2 separate regions of the Homo sapiens genome follow, and region 2 is linked to region 1. Evidence: fine-mapped expression QTL. A gene starts in region 1. The other region holds a variant in brackets. All regions are shown on one strand. Distances are between the middles of the regions. Region 1 holds the start of AGBL5 (AGBL carboxypeptidase 5). Region 2 overlaps MAPRE3 (microtubule associated protein RP/EB family member 3).

Region 1 (4,387 bases):
GGAGGCTGCAGGGACCTACCCGGCCGCGCGCCGCCCACCATCCCAGGTCTACCGCAGGGGAATCCCCCAGGCTTGCGAGCGCTTCCGAGGGCAGGAAAGCCTGTACTGCAGCCCCGCCGCCCTCTCCTGGCGCGTAGCCCTCTCCCCGAGCCCTCGGGCCACGCCGCCAGGCCCGCGATCCCAGGGCGGCCCGGGGGGTTCGGCACAGCCCGATAATGCGCCGCGCCGAAGCCTGCAGCACCCCGCGGTCGCCGTCTCTCTTGCACTGGTCAGGACGAATAGAGCCTGACAAAACCTGAGTTAATTGGCCGAGCGAATGTCGTTCGCGTCAGGAGAGCACGTCCGGAGAAGCCAAGGGAAATGTGGAGCAGGAGCAGCCAAAGTGGCCCATCGGCTCTCGAGCAGGGTTTGCGCGTCGCGGTCGCAAAGCCCCTGTGAGTGCAGGTACCGCGGCACAAGCGCTGCCCCGGAGCTCCAGGAGGCGGCGGCGGGCTCGGCGTTCGCGGTCCAGGAGAAACCACCGCGGGGTGTTGGGAACATTTTGTTAAAAAGCCGGGAAGCTCAGGGCCGGTGTGGCCTCCGTTCTGGCCTGAGAACCCGGACTTTGGGCAGCTTCTTTTCCTTGCCTTTGGGTCTCCGGCTTTCTCAGCTCTGTGAGGTCCCATGGGTCTCCTGCCCTGGCAGGTTCCTTCAGCTGGAGAAAGCGGGGGTCATGGCTGGATGAGGTTGCGGTAAGCATTAGAGGGCTATCAGCAGCATCTTATCGCAGCGGAGCCTTCGATAGCTCAGTTGGTAGAGCGGAGGACTGTAGTGGATAGGGCGTGGCAATCCTTAGGTCGCTGGTTCGATTCCGGCTCGAAGGACTTCGTCTGTAATTTTTAACCTCAATTTAATTCAATTATCCCATAAGGGGAAAGGCTTGGAGGCCTCCTGTGACTTAGCATTCGTACTGCCGTCAGTCCATAGGGAACACCGTAGTATGTAGTATACGGTAACGCTCTTTCTGCGTTCAATGTACATGTGGTAACGTGTTTTAGAATGTTTTCTGCTTAAGCACACGATTATATGCTTGATTTTTAGAATCTTGCACATGGATGCCACTGTATTGTACTCTGCTAAATAAATGTCCTGAACTGTGGTTGATCCACTGGTCAGTGAACAGTGCAGTGAACCTGTAAGGCAAAGGGAAAGAACTAAGCAGCAGGCGGGGGATTAGCTCAAATGGTAGAGCGCTCGCTTAGCATGCGAGAGGTAGCGGGATCGATGCCCGCATCCTCCACTCAGCTTTTGCGTCCGTCACACTACAGAACACAAAACGGGAGGGATTCCCGGCGCAGTGGGCTACGTGTTTCATTTTAGAGACACAAGACTGTTAAGCGATAAGGAGTTTCACACGATGTCTTTTTATTTCGCAGTTGAGTCCCAGTTTCTGCCGCTTTATCTTTCCCGCCTCCCGGCAGGCAGGCCGTTAACCGTCTTCCGGAAGACGCTGCTAGAACCCTCCGGCCGCTCCTGCCCGCCATCGTCCCCGAACGACACTCGCTCAGGTACCCACTAACGTGCGAGGAACCCTGAGAGCTGACCAATGGTAGCGAGCTTTACTGGGCGGGTCGCCAGCTGCAGCCACGGCCAATAGGCGAGAGACTTCTTGTTTCCTGGCAGAGCGGGGTCCCGGCACCGCGGCGCTCGGGTGTTTTTGGGGGCCCGGGTGGAGGGCCCGGGTGCCGGGGCCCAAGGTGCGGCCTCGCTAGCGGGAGAGGGAGCGGGATCACCGGCCCGGAGAGAGGTGAGGGGCTCTGCGCGGACTACGGGCCCCGCCAGCCCCGGCCCCGCCAGCCCCGGCCCCGCCCCCTTCTCTCAGCCCCTTGAGCCCGAGCCCCTCGAAGGCCACCCCGCACCCCGCTCCCGACCTGGCTTACGCGGTCCCGACCCCGCCCAGCTCCGTGGCCTCACCTCTGACTCCTAGGCCCTCCCTGCCTAATCCCCTGCCGCGGGAGCCCGTCTCGACCCCTTCCATGCCTCCCAGTCCCACCCTGCCCAGGGCAAGCCCGCTCGGTGTGACGGTTCCCCGCGAGTCGAGGGTGGAGAAGCCAGCCTCCTTCCCCCGAGTGGGACTCTAGCAGCCCACCTCTTTTAGGGGTGCTGAGAACACCCATTACTCATCCACAGCTACTAGGGTAGCTTTCTCAGGGTGCAGTGCTTACGGGGCGGAGGGGGATGGAAACAGACCCATGCCCTGGCTGGAAGGGAGCTCCAGTCGCTAGGTGAGCCCAGTAGCCTTTGGCTTGGCAGAGGCACCACTGTTATAGTTTTTCTCCATACTAGGCATAAGGTAGGAACAAAAAAGGAAGAACCAGCCCTTCCAGGGCTCAGGGGAGCAACACCAGAATGTCCGCTCAGTACTTGTGAGGACAGAGGCTGGAGAGAGGACTACCCATTTACACTCAGAACCTCGATTCCTCTCTCTGCTCTGTGCTGGAGAGTGCAGAGCCAGAGATCCAGAACGGCCCATCTCTAAAGGTGGCCATGTATGGTGGTGAGTGTATCTTGGCTAGGTTTGGAAAATCTGACCTCTCTGATTATATTCTCTAATCTTTGGGCTGCAAAGCAGCTGAGAGTTTAGTGTTTTTCAACATAGTTAAGCCACTGAGTTTTATTTGGGAACAGCCAAGCTAAAGTAAAATGGGGTCCCTTTAGGTCATTTACAACCCTTAGTGTTGGGGTACAGAATGCTGCTTTCTCTTGGCCTTTGCTGGAAGACCACTTCTATGTTTTCTAAGAGGGAGACAGCCTTTTGTTTCATAGGGCACTCCCTAAGAATAGCTCTTATTTATCAAGAGATACCCAGAAAACTCTTCGATTTGTCTTCCCTTTCCTCCTTAACCTAACCCTTGTTTTCCCCCAGCTCTCAGGGCCAGAGCGGGGCAGGAGGATGCTTTCCCAGCCCCACCATGGAGCTGCGCTGTGGGGGATTGCTGTTCAGTTCTCGCTTTGATTCAGGGAATCTAGCCCACGTGGAGAAGGTGGAATCTTTGTCCAGTGATGGGGAAGGGGTAGGAGGTGGGGCGTCAGCCCTGACCAGTGGCATTGCCTCTTCCCCTGACTATGAATTCAACGTGTGGACCCGACCAGACTGTGCTGAAACGGAATTTGAGAATGGGAACAGGTATATGGAACGAAATGGAGGGTGGAAAAAGGCTCCAAACCCATGCTTCAGTTAGCCCTCTGACTTATCTGTTCATACCCAGCATACTCCCTGTCCATTTCTGACCCATCGTCCCTCCTTTCTCCTTGCCAAATAGCCCTTTCCCAGTTTGGCTGGCTCCGGCTCTCCCACAGACCATATCTCCAACCCTTCCACACGTAATGACCTCTCTCTTACTCTGGTCCTCAGGTCATGGTTCTACTTCAGCGTCCGGGGAGGAATGCCAGGAAAACTCATCAAGATCAACATTATGAACATGAACAAGCAGAGCAAGCTGTATTCCCAGGGCATGGCCCCCTTTGTGCGCACACTGCCCACCCGGCCACGCTGGGAACGCATTCGAGACCGGCCCACCTTTGAGGTAAGTTCTCCATGAGGAGGAAAGAAAGACTTGGGTGCTAAAAGTAGAGAGGAAAGTAAAGCGTTTTTTTTTCCTTGATACAAGTATGAAGCAGGTGGGACAACAGGTTTAAGTATCAGCTTTTTCTCCAGTGTTAGCTAGAGTCCAAGATGAGCCCCTGCCTCAGGAAGCCTAGAAGGAGCCACTTTTCATATAGAAAGTGTCACAGGGAGGGAAGTTGGTAAAGGTGATAAGGGTGTGAGGTCAGTTCCTGGTGGTCCCAGTAGGAGCTCAGTTCTGACAATGGCATGTTGCCCCTCCCTCTTCCTCCTCTGCTCTTCAGATGACAGAGACGCAGTTTGTGTTATCCTTTGTTCATCGTTTCGTGGAGGGCCGTGGGGCCACCACCTTCTTCGCCTTCTGCTACCCCTTCTCCTACAGTGACTGCCAGGAACTGCTAAACCAGCTAGACCAGCGCTTTCCGGAGAACCACCCTACCCATAGCAGGTGCCAGCCCCATTCTTACTCCTGCCACACAGTCCTGGATCAGACAGCACCTCCACTACTTCTGGAATTTGCTCTTAGAGCTCTGAACCATACTTTCATCCGTCTTTTTTCTGTACAGAATGTACAGACAGGACTTTGGGTACCTTTGAAAACTATGTTTCTGTATGACCCTGATCTCAGCATATCGACACCTGCCCTCCACTCTTTCACCTGCCCAGTTCAGACCTCTTACTAGCCCAGCTCCCATTAATTATCCAGAGTTTAGCCAGCATTATGTGACTCAGTATACCTTTTTTATCTGCCCCCACGGAGAACAACTCCGACTACATTAAGTA
Region 2 (4,387 bases), 71 kb before region 1:
CACTCTTAAGTGACAGGATCACTGCTAAGTACAGAGATGTGTTATGCTGGCCCCAAAATAGCAAGGTACAGTGTCTTGAGACAACTTGATAAGACTTCTATTACCCCAAAAGTATAGTTCCCAGGTTTACAGATTATTCATATAAATTTGCATATCATCTTCACAAGACATGTAAGCATGCTCTCAGCACGTATTCTTCATCAAGCCCTTTCTCTGTTTTGTATTGTTAGTCACTATGGGATATAAAGGAAATGAGACTCAACCCTTGTCCATGAGGAGGCTGTAATGTGTGTGGAAGACAAGATGGATATATGGAATGATTAGTGCATATGACAATATTGCATGTCAGAAACACATCTTTGGTGCCTTATTCTATAAGACACAGTGTCAGCCCTTAAGGAATTCAGCTAATATTCTGGCAAAAGAGTTGGACACAAAACTGTATGTCACTGTAACATGAGGGGATGGAACCTTATCAGCTATGGGAAAGGGTGCTTTGGTAAGCCAGAAGGAAGAGTCACCCTGAGCCTGTGAGAACCAGAAAGACTTCAGAGATGAAGACACACTGGAGCTGGGTGTGCAGGTTGATGTGGAGACTCATCAGAGGACAGCTGAGGAAGAGAGGCAAAAGAAATGAAAAGAACAGTGCATTGGGTGTCACTGGTACTACAGAGTCTAAATTCCAAAAGGATGCTGAGAGGAAAATAATCATTGTGAACTGGAGTAATCAGAAAAGACTTCAGTCTAGGTGCAATGGCTCACGCCTGTCATACCAACACTTTGGGAGGCCAAGGGGGGAGGATCACTTGAGGCCAGGAGTTCAAGACCAGCCTCAGCAACATAGCGAGACCCCATCTACAAAAATTGTTTTTAAATTAGCCGGGCATGGTGGCATATACCTATAGTCCCAGCTACTAGGGAAGCCAAGGCAGGAGGATGGCTTGAGCCCAGGAGTTTGAGGCTGCAGTGAACTATGATCATGCCATTGCACTCCAGCCTGGGTGGCAGAGTAAGGGCCAATCTCTATTAAAAAAAGACAAGACTTCACAAAGGAAGCAGAACCTGACCTTGTCTCAAGGATGAGCAGGCTGTGAGTTGACAGAACACCAGAGAGGGCTTTTCAGGAGGCAAGGTACAGCATCAGCAAAGGAATGGCCGTGGGAAGGGGTGTGGTGGGGTTTGTAGGCAGGGCAGCCTTACCAGACTGAGGATGTGTGCTGGTTTTGAGTTTGGAGAATATTGGTGACATTAACCAGAAATTAGGAAGTTTGAAGAGACAGTTTGGAAAGGAGTTGCTTTTTAGACACAGAGAGCTAAAAACAACGTGACTGTGGGTTGCAGGACATCCAAGTTGAGTGATCTCATAGAACCGGAAGCTGAGGGTCAGGTTGTGGATGGAGCTGTAGAGTGGGAGTCAGCAGCACAGAGGAGGGCTGGATTCCCTCAAAGGAATCTCTCCAGAGGTCTTGCATGCAGAGTACAAAGACCAGAGCCCCAAGTAATAAGCTTTGAGAACTGTCCATAGTTAGGAAAAAAGGAACAAGATGGTGGGAAATTAGGATGATTCAGCAGCAAGGGAAGAGAAAATGTCTGGAAGAGAGTTTCAGTGCTGCTGATTTAACTAGATTTAAGGATTTAACTAGAAGGCAGTCATGATGATTGCTTAGGGTATCCATTCAGTAAAACACTGGAGTGGTTTAAGGGGAAAATTGACAGAGAAAAATAGAAGCAATGGCTGGTCACCAGAGAATGGCAGCAGGGAGGGAAAGAAAGTAGTAACCAGAAGAAGCAATCGAATCAAATATTTTATTTTTGTAAAATAATTCTATTCTTTATCAGCAAACATATAAAATTGTAGTATGTGGTTCTTAAAATATATTTTGTGTATTAAAATGTGCTTCATCTGCAGACTTCTCTATATTGACATAATCCATATATTTGTAACTTCACATATTTCATTCCTTTGGTGGTATCCCATCATATTGATACCAGTATGCTTAACCTCAATCTGTTGTTGGGCAGTTGGAGTATTTTGCAAGTGTAAATATCTCTGATTTGAACATTACTGTACAAGTGACATTTTTTTCTTTTGTGGATTATTTATTCATGGTATATTCCATAAAGTGAATTACAGAGGTGCAAAGGGTACGATTTTTTAAATAAGCTTTTTATACAACGTTCTTCATGGTGATCTAACCAACTTTCAATTAGAGTAAAAGTTTGGTATTGACGAAGAATCATTTTTTATAAGAAGGAGGTCTGAGCATGTTTAATGGCAGAAGGGAAAAGGAGTTATCCAAAGAAAATAGTACACAGACAAGAGAGAAATAAAGCAAAAAGGAATGATCTTTAGGATCCCAGGGAAAGGTTCCTTTGAAGAGAAGAGGGCATGGCTCTTTCTACCCCTGACTTTTAGGGTGAAGTCCAGGATAGATTACTGGGGTTCCTCCTAAGAAAAGACCTTTCTTTCTTTAGTAAAATAGAGCCAAGGCCACTTGCTGAGGTGGGGGAGGGAGAGGGTTGGTGGGGAATTGAGTTCTTGAAGGTCTGAATTACCCACAGTGAGAAATAAGTCTGGGCATATGAGAGATGAATAAAGGTCTTATTGTGAATGC[T/C]GCATTGGACCTATGAATTCATAATGGGCTGAGTCTTTAAAGTCCTCTGGCCAGAGAAGCAGCAGTGAGTGGGGACGGGCACCAGGAATGGGTGTTGCTTGGCATGTTCAGGGCAAGGTTTCTGAGGAGTCAAAACTTAAGATGCAGTGAAGTAGCTGGCCCTAAGGCCGGAGGTAGAGGAAGGGCCACAAGTTGAAGACAGGCGCTGGTTGTCAGCCAGAATGAGGAGGCAGAGGAATTACAGGGGCCAGTGGGAACGGAAAACAGGTTTAGAATATGAGGGATGAGCAGTAAGGAGGCCACTGACAGAGGAAGATTTTCATATTAAAATTTGGCAGAGGCTTCTTTTACTTTTGTTCATCTTTGTATAATGTTTACGTTTCTAACACAGACGTGTAACCACTAACATTTCTTAAAGGAATATTTGAAATCTCAGGAGTCGAGCTGTGCCTTCCGGGTGTGGCTGGATTGCTGAGATGGATGAAGGAGAAATGAAGATGGAGCTGGATCATGGAGCCTACCTTGAAAAGGTGCTGGGCCTCTAAGGAGCCTCCACGTGTCAGCCAGTGGCTTCTGTGGTCTCAGCTTGTCACAAAAGAGTGGCACCCAGCCAGCAGCCCTCCTCCACCTACACTCCAGTAGTGTTCAAAATCCAAGGAGGCCCATCTTCCCAGGCTTGACAGTCGACTCTTAGATGTGCTGTTGCGTGAGTCTGGTGGTTTCCAACTCTCTGAGCAGATCCCTACTGAGCCATGCCTCTCTGGCCTCTGTGAGTGAAGGTTCTTCCTCCAGACAGATAGAGTCCCTTGCTAGGAATGCAGTTTTGTGAGTGGAGCTTGGGTTCTACTCATTTTGTGAGGGTTCCAGCCCTCATCTCCTCCACAAGGTGCTTTGTGCAGTGTACAAAGTGTACAACTGTTTATAACAGCCCTGTTTCTCTCTTGCCTATTATGAAACTTGGCCTAAAGTCCTTTCCTCCTCTGACCCCTCTCTTTCTCATGTCCTCCTAGATCATTCACTTTGACTCTGACCCTGTCTAACACCCTGGGTTGTGGTCTTTATTCCACCTGCTGGATTCACATTACTTTCATGCTGCACAACTGAAGCCATTTACACAGCTCACCATGCAAAGCAGCCACAGGGGCTGATAGCAGGGGACTTAACTAGGTGGGAATATGTGGAAAGTCAGGTGCAGGAGTCAACCTGTGGAAACGGAAAAGCTAGGGCTGCTTTCTTTCCAGGGCCTTACACTGACATTACCTTGCCTGGACATTTTGTAGTCCCGTTTCATGAAAGCCAGGACCTAAGCAGAAGTATGGCTCCCTGCCAGTCCCTACCAGGAAGGAACAAACAGCTTGCAGTACAGGCCTCAAGCCAGGTGGGGCAGGAGCAAAAGTGCATTGTGTTGCCTGTGGAATTAAATGGACTCTCTATAAACACAGCCTCCTGCCACTGTTCTTTTCTCTTTCCACCTAGTCAGCCTACCTGAGAATAATTAGCCCTTGGCCTATAATTAGGTAGAATGATTATTTTACTACTGTTTATCCATTTCACTAGATAACTAGCTTCATGAGGCAGGGACCATGTGAGACCTAGCAGTATCTGGGGCTCAACAAATAATTGCAGAATGAATGGATTTCTAAGGCATATTTGTTGCTGTCCATCCTTAATGCTATGAAATGGTACCTAGGAGTGAGTATATAGTGACCATAGTAACTAACGAAAAAGCCCTCACATTTGTCCCTAATGGACAAGAGTGCCAGCAAAAGCAA

The links. PIP is the estimated chance that this variant, and not a neighbour inherited with it, causes the effect.
Region 2: its variant is the best candidate, but not a certain one, in a credible set for the expression of AGBL5 in whole blood (TOPMed, PIP 0.59).

Annotation. Positions count from the first base shown.
Region 1 is chr2:27,050,008-27,054,394 of GRCh38, forward strand. AGBL5 (AGBL carboxypeptidase 5) reads left to right here and starts at 1,661. Exons shown (of 15, transcript NM_021831.6): 1 at 1,661-1,786; 2 at 2,906-3,166; 3 at 3,395-3,566; 4 at 3,889-4,052. The coding sequence starts at 2,952. AGBL5-AS1 (AGBL5 antisense RNA 1) reads right to left here and starts at 257. Exons shown (of 2, transcript NR_046730.1): 1 at 173-257. It overlaps TRY-GTA2-1 (tRNA-Tyr (anticodon GTA) 2-1), which reads left to right and starts at 775; the gene lies at 775-863. TRA-AGC8-1 (tRNA-Ala (anticodon AGC) 8-1) reads left to right here and starts at 1,207; the gene lies at 1,207-1,279. RefSeq lists silencers at 42-251, 954-1,248, 1,652-2,091, 2,112-2,161 and enhancers at 412-701, 872-1,101, 1,416-1,915.
Region 2 is chr2:26,978,562-26,982,948 of GRCh38, forward strand. The region is part of intron 1 of MAPRE3 (microtubule associated protein RP/EB family member 3); the gene reads left to right. Among named protein-coding and RNA genes, the nearest start is that of MAPRE3, 10 kb to the left of the region's middle. RefSeq lists an enhancer at 4,026-4,085. The variant T/C (reference allele first, on the strand shown) is at 2,616.